Linked DNA regions of Homo sapiens. The protein of the gene in region 1 interacts with the protein of each later gene in a pairwise test. Each region holds a gene or a part of one and is shown in the gene's direction. Other genes may lie near its edges.

What was found.
Region 2: the proteins of SSMEM1 (region 1) and FPR2 interact in binary tests that used the Homo sapiens proteins (3 or more experiments, as listed by UniProt).
Region 3: the proteins of SSMEM1 (region 1) and APOA2 interact in binary tests that used the Homo sapiens proteins (3 or more experiments, as listed by UniProt).

Annotation. Positions count from the first base shown.
Region 1 is NC_000007.14:130,214,038-130,217,434, forward strand, and holds the end of SSMEM1 (serine-rich single-pass membrane protein 1), read left to right. Parts: intron 1-1,936; coding exon 1,937-2,433; 3' UTR 2,434-2,807; downstream 2,808-3,397.
Region 2 is NC_000019.10:51,759,658-51,763,411, forward strand, and holds the start of FPR2 (N-formyl peptide receptor 2), read left to right. Parts: upstream 1-1,522; 5' UTR 1,523-1,573; intron 1,574-3,704; exon of another isoform or gene 3,705-3,754. UniProt on the Homo sapiens protein: Low affinity receptor for N-formyl-methionyl peptides, which are powerful neutrophil chemotactic factors. Binding of FMLP to the receptor causes activation of neutrophils.
Region 3 is NC_000001.11:161,221,787-161,225,277, reverse strand, and holds APOA2 (apolipoprotein A-II preproprotein), read left to right. Parts: upstream 1-1,649; 5' UTR 1,650-1,683; intron 1,684-1,852; 5' UTR 1,853-1,876; coding exon 1,877-1,928; intron 1,929-2,227; coding exon 2,228-2,360; intron 2,361-2,755; coding exon 2,756-2,873; 3' UTR 2,874-2,986; downstream 2,987-3,491. UniProt on the Homo sapiens protein: May stabilize HDL (high density lipoprotein) structure by its association with lipids, and affect the HDL metabolism.

The DNA of each region.
Region 1 (3,397 bases):
TGACATCTTTTTCAATAACCTATAAGCAGTGGTGCACTGGTAAATGTTTAACAACTGGTTCTCCAAAACTCCTGTGTGTACATATGCTTACTAAAAATTTTACTGATATAAAGGTTGCACGTCATCTCAGCACCTCCAGAGGCTGAAGCAGGAGAACTGCTTGAGGCCAGGAGTTCAAGATCAGCCTGGAGAACATAGCAAAACCCTGTCTTTTTAAAAAAGAAAATTAGCTGGCATGGTTGTTCGCACCTGCGGTCTCAGCTACTCAGGAGGCTGAGGCAACAGAATCACTTGAGCCCAGGAGTTCGAGGCTGCCAGTGAGGCATAATCATGCCACTACACTCCAGCCTGGGCGGCACAGTGAGTCCCTGACTCTAAAAATTTAATAAATAAATAAATAAAAATAAATAAATATATATCACACCATTTAAAATAATAAAATATACAATACTCCTTATGGCCAATTTCATATAGACAACTGATTCTCACAAAACGCTCTCCTTCATTTTTGCCAGACCCTTGCACCTTAGCCAACCATGGCTGCAATTGATGAACAAGTATAGTTCCAGCGTGAATGTTATTTTCCTCTAAGTTAAGGAGTGAGATGAAAATGAAGCAGAAGATAGATGTATGTTGGAACTTAACTTGGTTGTCAGTGATGTGAGTGACTTCTTTGCTGGAATGGATAATAGTTCTAAAATACTGGAAGAATATTTCCTCATTTTGCAGGGTTAGTCACAATGTAGTGGCTACAGGGATGATACTGAAATGTAATATGTAATCTGCATTAGTAACATGTTCTCCATCATTTTCTTAAGCCTAGACAATCAACAAAGCCATACATCAAGCCCTGATGTTTAGTGTCTGCTGATTTTCGTGGTATAAATACTTCCACCAAAGCTGATTTTAAGCTATCCACCTCATGTCATTGAACATGGAGTTGGGAGGAGATGTGCAGTAGTGCACCCTTAACATAGAATTTCCGCCGGGCGTGGTGGCTCACGCCTGTAATCTCAGCACTTTGGGTGGCCAAGGAGGGTGGATCTCCTGAGGTCAGGAGTTCGAGACCAGCCTGGCCAACATGGCAAAACCCTGTCTCTACTAAAAATACAAAAAAATTAGCTGTGCATGGTGGCACGTGCCTATAATCCCAGCTGCTGGGGGGCTGAGGCAGGAGGATCACTTGAACCTGGGAGACAGACATTGCAGTGAGCCGAGATCGTGCCACTGCACTCTAGCCTGGGCAACAGAGCGAGACTCCATCTCAAAAACAAAAAAAAACAAAACAAAAAAACAGCATAGAGTTTCCAGCATCCAAATACAACGGACATAAAAAACCAGAAGAGCACATAGCATAAACAAATGTAGTAAGATAATTAGGAAGTGATGGGTTTTGAGTATTACCTCTATTTTTAGTAACTTAATTTATTGTAAGTTGGTATAATTTAATTTTTAATAATGGCTATGTTTAACCATCTCTCAAAATTCCTGAAAGTTTATCAGCTCTTCTGAGCAGGTACAAGCCAACTTCCTCACACCACTACGTAAAGGAAAGATCCTTCTTAGTTCCTGCTCCCCAAATCACATTCATATACCTGCTTGAATCTGTAAGACTTCAATTTTCAAAGGGAAAAAAGAGTTCTTCCCTGGAAAAGTTTAGAGATCTTTTCCTTTGACCTTATGTTTAGCATCCACAAAACTTCAAAAGTGATATGGTGATATGTCAAGCATCTATCTAAGCTCTCTGGTCTGCAGGAGTTGGGATATGGTACTAGAAAATGCAGTCAGCTGCCAACACTTGCAGGTGACTGGAGAAAAGCAATGGCTTGACAACTGGCCACTAAGAGTGAGCTCACACGTGCACAGGCTTCTTAAGTAATAGGAATTCATAGTAACCAACAATATTACTAACTTGATATGTTTCATTGGTTGTTAGCAAGCAAAGAGACTTCCTGTAAGCGGCAAAGCAAAGACAGTGCCTGGGATCCCTCACAAACAATGAAGAAACCAAAGCAGAACCAACTTACCCCTGTAACCAACTCAGAAGTGGCTTTGGTCAATGCCTATCCTGAACAAAGACGAGCCAGGCGCCAGTCTCAGTTCAATGAGGTGAACCAGAACCAACATGACAGTGATACTACGGAGTATGGCAGTGAAGAGTCTAACTCAGAAGCCTCCTCGTGGAAGGAGAGTGAAAGTGAACACCACCCATCACCAGACAGTATTAAGAGGAGAAAAATGGCTCAGAGGCAAAGGAATCTGGGAAGTTACCAAATGAGCGAAAGGCACTGCCTCCACTGCAAAGCCTTGAGAACCAACGAATGGTTGGCGCACCATTCCCGACAGAAGCCTTCAGTAACACCGCCAATGAAAAGAGACAGTCAAGAGGAAAGTTCCATATCTGACATTAACAAGAAATTTAGTAAATTTTGAATTTTATCACGTTCTTCCTTCACTTGAAGCCAAATGAAAGAGATGAATAAAACATGAAAAATCACCAGAGCTATAGGTGAGGAGACTTTTACAACAAAGTCTCTCTACCAACAAACAAAAACATACTTGGAACCCAAGAGGTAAAATCTCACACAATTCTTCGTTCAAAAAAAAAAAGGCCATCACGTGTTTATGGCACCATTGGAACACCAAAGATCTATATCTGCTATGATTTTTTTATTTGAAATAGCACAAGACAGATATTTTGTGCCTTGAGTGTATATATTTTGTGCCTTGAGTGTATGTATTTTGTTTATGTCTGTAATATGAATAAGAAAGCTCTTTGAAAATGTATTATTTATGTTGAGAAACCACTTAAATGTATTCAGATGTTTTGCTTATCTGACTGACTGAATGAACTAGGTGAAGTTGGTTGGAATAGAATTGCCCCATCCTCTCTAGGTTTGACCCTACAAGAACTGTATTGCCACACATGTCAGCTAGGGGCTGGTGTGGAAGAGGAGCTCAAGAGGCTGGAATAAGATCTGATTCCTGGAGTAGGGAGGAGAGGCAGCATGACCCAGAAGGCAGTTGGCAGTGGGCTACCCACGGTTGTCATCCACAAAGTGCATGGCAAATGTTAAAGGAAAAATTATTCTGACACTTGTTAAAATGGCCAGGAGGACTTCATTCAAGACTCTATTGCAATAGAGAGTAGAAATTGAGCTCCACTCTGAATACAACAAGGACAAGTGGGGATTTATAGCCAGGAGCAGGAGGAGGACATCACAGGATGGGAAATTACCAAAGAGAGACATCAAACATAGGAGTATTCCTGATAAAGTGACCTAACAGGATTCATGCTAAAGGCAGGCCAAGGACTTACACATCAAAAGTGGAGAATGAGGCCAGGCGTGGTGGCTCATGCCTGTAATCCCGGCACTTTGGGAGGCCAAGGCAGGCG
Region 2 (3,754 bases), on another chromosome or scaffold:
AGAAGAAATTCTAAGTTCTTTTTACAGCATTCAAGACCAACCAAGAAATTGCCTCTGCCGCCCTCTACATACTTAATGCTTATTGCTGTCTGCCTTATCATCTATGCTCTGGTAAACAAAAGTAACCTGCTTTTTTGTGACCCCTTTCGTGGGTATTTTTACTCCCCTCTGACAAGAATGCATTATTTTTTCTCCTTTATCTGAGTCTTTAAGACTCAGCCTACATGTTCCCTCCTCCGGATATTGACTCTAGATCCGTGAATCTGAGTTAGTGGTTCCTTTTAGAGGACCTCACAAGGAGCCAGGCATCTGTCTATCACTACGTGCCCCCACCCTATTGTAACTAAGCACTGCATTCTCACCTCTCTATTCAGGTGGTCCGCAGAGCCCATGTCTGATTGATCTCTATGTCTCCAGCAGCCAGCAAGGAAGCACCTCTTTAGAGACCTGCACCTATACAATACCTACCACCTTTTATTTCTCGATATGTGAACTCCATTGAGAACAAACGAGTAAATGTAGGTAATGTGCCTTCTTCTTTTCTTTTCTTTTCTTTTTTTTTTTAGATGGAGTCTCGCTCTGTTGCCCAGGCTGGAGTTTAGTGGCACAATCTCGGCTCACTGTAACCTCCGCCTCCCAGGTTCAAGCGATTCTGCCGCCTCAGCCTACCAAGTAGTTGGGATTACAGGTGCCCACCACCACGCCCAGCTAATTTTTTTTGTATTTTTAGTAGAGGTGGGGTTTCATGATGTTGGCTAGGATGGTTTTCAACTCCTGACCTCAAGTGATCCACCCACCTCGGCCTCCCAAAGTGCTAGGATTACAGGTGTGAGCCACAGCGCCCAGCCAGTAATGTGCCTTCTTAAGTTCTGTGAGCCATTCTAACAAATTATCAGAACAGAGGAAGGGGTTATAAACATCCCCCCACCCCCGATTTATAGCCAGTCAGTCAGAAGTACAGGTGGCCACCTGGGACTTGGATTGGTGTCTGAAGTGAGGACAGTTTTGGGAGAGTGAGCCCTTTAACTTGTGGGATCTGACACTAACTCCAGGTAGACAGCGTCGGAGCTGAATTGAATTGTGAGATACCCAGTGGTGTCCCCAGAGAACTGGAGAATTGCTTGATATGGAAAAGACCCACACATTTGATGCCAGAAGTACTGCATAAGTCGAGAATTGAGTTTGACTTAATCATCATATTTGGGCTTGATTGCGTGGCTGAAACTCTTCCCACTTCAGTAATTGTTTCTTTCATTTTCATGAAACTCTGAAGAAGGAAGGGCTGGACATTCAGATTCCTTGACCCTTGACATTTGGAAGCATGAACTCCAGTCTCTCACAGAAGGCTAGAGGTGAAGGAACATTCAGACACATTGGTTTCTAAGAAGAGTCCGCTGACAACATACCCAAGGTGTCTTCTGAAAATTATAAGAAATCCTGAGTTTCTGTTAGGGGATTGGCTCCAGCTCCATTGTCCCTCCCCCATCATTCAGTAGTCTCCGCGAAAGCCCTTAGAGCCGGTGTTGCTCCACAGGAAGCCAAGAAGCACACAGGAAAAGGAGCTTAGCTGCTGGTAAGTTGGGGACTGACAATTTAAAATTTATCAATGGAACTCCTGCTCTCTGACAAACACCTCCTAAATTCTAGAGCAGTGCTGTAATGGAGCATCCACTTGCCACAGGTGGCTTTTGAGTGCCTATGTTTCTATCTTGATCTGAAATGTGCTTAAGTGTAAAATATACTTAGTGTAGTTTAATCATTAGTATGATCAAAATAATACAATTTATCTCGTTAATAACTTTCATTTTGGTAACGTGTTCCAATGATTTTTTTTATTTGCGGGGTTAAATGAAACATATTATTATAATTAATTTCTCCCAATGATTTTACTTTTTTAACATGGCTACTAGAAAGTTGTAAGTCACGTGTGTGGCTGGCATTTAGGGCTTGCATTACCCTGTCTCTACTAAAAATGCAAACAACAAACTAGCCAGGCGTAGTGGTGGGAGCCTGTAATCCCAGCTACTCAGGAGGCTGAGGCAGGAGAATCGCTTGAACCTAGGAGGCCGAGGTTGCAGTGAGCCGATATCGTGCCATTGCACTCCAGCCTGGGCAAGAAGAGTGAAACTCTAACTCAAAGATAAATAAACATGTGAAGGAGCCAAGTGTGAGGAGCTTAAGAGGAAGAGCATGGTAGGCAGAAGGAACAGAGAAGGCAGAAGCCCCGAGATGACAATGAGCTGCATGTTCAAGGAATCAGAGCCCGTTATGGGTGGAGCCCAGTGTGTCCCACGAGAGTGCAGAGATGAGGTCTGAGGAATGCACAGGGCAGGTCCAGGGGTACTTGAGGGAACTTAAGATAAGGATAAGTTAGAAGTTTGGAAGCCATTAGAAGGTGTTGAAAATAGCATCACCATTTTATTGGACCTTTTTTTTTTTTTTTTTTGAGACAGAATCTTGCTCTGTCGCCCAGGCTGAAGTGCAGTGGCGCAGTCTCGGCTCACTGCAAACTCTGCCTCTCAGGGTCAAGCGATTCTCCTGCCTCAGCCTCCCAAGTAGCTGGGATTACAGGCACCCGCCATCACGCCCAGCTAATTTTTGTGTTTTTTTAGTAGAGACGGGGTTTCATCATGTTGGGCAGGTTGGTCTTGAACTCCTGACCTCAGGTGATCCACCCACCTCAGCCTCCCAAAGTGCTGGGATTACAGGCATGAGCCACTCCCGGCCCTTATTGGACTTTTTTTTTTTTTTTGAGACAGAGTTTTGCTCTTGTTGCCCAGGCTGGAGTGCAATGGCACGATCTCAGCTCACTGCAACCTCCGCCTCCCTGGTTCAAGCGATTCTCCTGCGTCAGCCTCCCGAGCATCTGGAATTACAGGCACGTGCCACCACGCCCAGCTAATTTTGTATTTTTAGTAGAGATGGGGTTTCTTCATGTTGGCCAGGTTGGTCTCGAACTCCTGACCTCTGGTGACCCACCTGCCTCGGCCTCCCAAAGTGCTGGGATTACAGGTGTGAGCCACTGCACCTGGCCCTTATTGAACTTTTTAAAAGCTCATTTGGTTTCCTTCTGGAGATTGGATTGTAGGGCAGGGGAAAGTAGGACCAGGAACAACCTATTTGCAAAGTTGGCGCAAACATTCCTGCCTGACAGGACCATGGACACAGGTTGTAGAGATAGAGATGGCTCTGGCTGTGCATTCAGCAGATTCTGTAGATAGAATTAATAGGACTTGGATGGGATTGTGGTGAGAGAAAGTGAAATGAAAGATAAGTTCTAGTTTGGAAGTTTTAACAACTGAATGTTTAAACTCAAATAGACACAAAATATTGGAAGAGTGGCAGGTTTGGGAGGATGAGACAATCAACTGTTTGGTTGAGCCACGTTAGGTTTGAAATGTCTACGGGACTCCCGTGGGGAGAGGTTATATCAGACTGGAGCACCAGAGAGAGGCCAAGGCTGATAGTTTAGATGAAAAGAGAGCATGATATTTTAAGCCCTGAGACTGGATAATATCACCTATAGAAAGACTATATAGAGATAAGAGAGGTGGGGAACAAGTAAAAGCTGCGGGACACTCCTAAATTTAGAGTCAAATTTAGAGCAGAAAATACTAGCAAAGGGGACTGAAAAGCGGTGGCCAATTGAGCTTCAAATGCAAGTGAAAGTGTGTTGTGTGTACATTTATCATCTCATGGCACAGGAAAAACGTGATTTAAGGAGAAGGAAGCGATCCAATGGGAAGAAGAGATC
Region 3 (3,491 bases), on another chromosome or scaffold:
AAATCTAGGAATATGGAGCCTGGCCCCCAAAGGCACTCCATCCCAGGACCAGGGACAAGCCAAAGGGCTGACCTCAAGCACTAAGCGCTCCACAGGGGAATAATTGAAAATGGAGTAAGAGTTCTTGGTCTTGGAGGGTGAAGGGTGGGAGGAGGGAGAAGATCAGGAAAAATAACTAATGGATATTAGGCTTAATACCTGGGTGATGAAATAATCTGTACAACAAATCCCCATGACACAAGTTTACGTGTGTAACAAACTTGCATATATAGGCCAGGGGCGGTGGCTGATGCCTGTAATCCTAGCACTTTGGGAGGCCGAGGCGGGCAGATCACCTGAGGTCGGGAGTTCAAGACCAGCCTGACCAACATGGGGAAACCCCGTCTCTACTAAAAGTACAAAATTACCCGGGCGTGGTGGCGCATGTCTGTAATCCCAGCTACTTGGGATGCTGAGGCAGGAGAATCCTTGAACCCGGGAGGTGGAGGTTGCAGTGAGCCGAGATCATGCCATTACGCTCCAGCCTGAGCAACAAGAGCAAAACTCCGTCTCAGGAAAACAAACAAAAAAACCTGCACATATACTTCTGAATTTAAAACAAAAGTTAAAAAACAAAGATTTCTTGGTCTCTGGTCACTACCTCCCTCATCAGCTTTGCGCCTCCACTGTCACCCTCAGGAATGTTCCACATACTCAGCGAGTATGCTTGGGGGGCAAAAGGGTGAAAGATACAAAAGCTTCTGATATCTATTTAACTGATTTCACCCAAATGCTTTGAACCTGGGAATGTACCTCTCCCCCTCCCCCACCCCCAACAGGAGTGAGACAAGGGCCAGGGCTATTGCCCCTGCTGACTCAATATTGGCTAATCACTGCCTAGAACTGATAAGGTGATCAAATGACCAGGTGCCTTCAACCTTTACCCTGGTAGAAGCCTCTTATTCACCTCTTTTCCTGCCAGAGCCCTCCATTGGGAGGGGACGGGCGGAAGCTGTTTTCTGAATTTGTTTTACTGGGGGTAGGGTATGTTCAGTGATCAGCATCCAGGTCATTCTGGGCTCTCCTGTTTTCTCCCCGTCTCATTACACATTAACTCAAAAACGGACAAGATCATTTACACTTGCCCTCTTACCCGACCCTCATTCCCCTAACCCCCATAGCCCTCAACCCTGTCCCTGATTTCAATTCCTTTCTCCTTTCTTCTGCTCCCCAATATCTCTCTGCCAAGTTGCAGTAAAGTGGGATAAGGTTGAGAGATGAGATCTACCCATAATGGAATAAAGACACCATGAGCTTTCCATGGTATGATGGGTTGATGGTATTCCATGGGTTGATATGTCAGAGCTTTCCAGAGAAATAACTTGGAATCCTGCTTCCTGTTGCACTCAAGTCCAAGGACCTCAGATCTCAAAAGAATGAACCTCAAATATACCTGAAGTGTACCCCCTTAGCCTCCACTAAGAGCTGTACCCCCTGCCTCTCACCCCATCACCATGAGTCTTCCATGTGCTTGTCCTCTCCTCCCCCATTTCTCCAACTTGTTTATCCTCACATAATCCCTGCCCCACTGGGCCCATCCATAGTCCCTGTCACCTGACAGGGGGTGGGTAAACAGACAGGTATATAGCCCCTTCCTCTCCAGCCAGGGCAGGCACAGACACCAAGGACAGAGACGCTGGCTAGGTAAGATAAGGAGGCAAGATGTGTGAGCAGCATCCAAAGAGGCCTGGGCTTCAGTTGTGGAGAGGGAGAGAGCCAGGTTGGAATGGGCAGCAGGTAGGGAGATCCCTGGGGAGGAGCTGAAGCCCATTTGGCTTCAGTGTCCCCCAAACCCCCACCACCCTCTTCCTAGGCCGCCCTCCCCACTGTTACCAACATGAAGCTGCTCGCAGCAACTGTGCTACTCCTCACCATCTGCAGCCTTGAAGGTGGGTGTGATATGGAGAGGGGGCCAAAAGGGAGAATGTGCTGGTGGTTATAGCTACCTATCTGCCTGTGCTCTTATATCCAGGTCTGGCAACCAAAGGGCTCAAAAGGAAGATCATTCCCTCTCTAAAGCCCAGAAAGCCCATCCAAAGATCTGGCTGGATACCTTTTTGGGGAGGGGGCAGAGAGCTGGGGTGGGTACTGGCAGAGGTATGGCAGGAGGCCAGGATTCACTGCTGTGGACCCAGCTGAAAAGAGTGTGTGTGTGTGTGTGTGTGTGTGTGTGTGTGTGTGTGGGCAGGAGCTTTGGTTCGGAGACAGGCAAAGGAGCCATGTGTGGAGAGCCTGGTTTCTCAGTACTTCCAGACCGTGACTGACTATGGCAAGGACCTGATGGAGAAGGTCAAGAGCCCAGAGCTTCAGGCCGAGGCCAAGTAAGTCTCAGGGCAAGGGGTTCAGGGGCTGTGGAACTGTGGAGAGAAAGAAGGGAAGATGAGAGGTCCCACAGAAGTCTGAACCCAGGGGTGGGGATTAGGGCAGATTAGGCTTAAATTGCAGAGAAAAAGTATTTCATCACCCAAAGATCCCACACGTCTCTTAGATAGAGAGGAACAGCAAGAACTGGGCCTTGAATTTCAGTCTCTAGAGTCTGTCCCTCTACCTAGCAAAGGTCTTGACTCTATTCCTACCTAGGGGCTTTGCCATGCGATGGACCAGGCACTAGAGTTTGGGGACCTGAGTCAGTCTGCTCTGACCTCCCACCACCACCAAGGCCCCTGCCAGTGCCTAGGGTCCCTCAGATTAAACTCTAATCCCCTCACCTATCCAGGTCTTACTTTGAAAAGTCAAAGGAGCAGCTGACACCCCTGATCAAGAAGGCTGGAACGGAACTGGTTAACTTCTTGAGCTATTTCGTGGAACTTGGAACACAGCCTGCCACCCAGTGAAGTGTCCAGACCATTGTCTTCCAACCCCAGCTGGCCTCTAGAACACCCACTGGCCAGTCCTAGAGCTCCTGTCCCTACCCACTCTTTGCTACAATAAATGCTGAATGAATCCAGCTCTGAGCCTGGTATGTTTGGGGGACTGGGAAAAGTAGGGGAGTAAGGGAGGAGAAGAGGAAGGAAAAGGAAAAATCTGCTTCTAGAAGGAGAGAGGTTTGAGTGTGGAGGGGTGAAGAAAGGATTGAAGACACAACTGATGAAAATGACAGGATGAGGGTGCCATGATTCTCCAAACCCAGAGTCTCCTACAGCCTGGGCACGACTCTGCAGGTGAACACTAAAGAGGCTTTGCATTGCACAAGGAACTAGGAGAGGAAGGAAGGATTCACAAACTGAATCCCTCGATTTCTGGAGGTCATAGAAAATGAGGGTACCCTGGTGGGGTGCAGTGGCTCACACCTGTAATCCCTGCACTTTGGGAGGCCAAGGTAGGTGGATCACTTGAGATCAGGAGTTCCAGACCAGCCTAGCCAACATGGTAAAACCCCGTCTCTACTAAAAATACAAAAATTAGCCAGGTGTTGTGGCACGTGCCTGTAATCCCAGCTACTCGGGAGACTG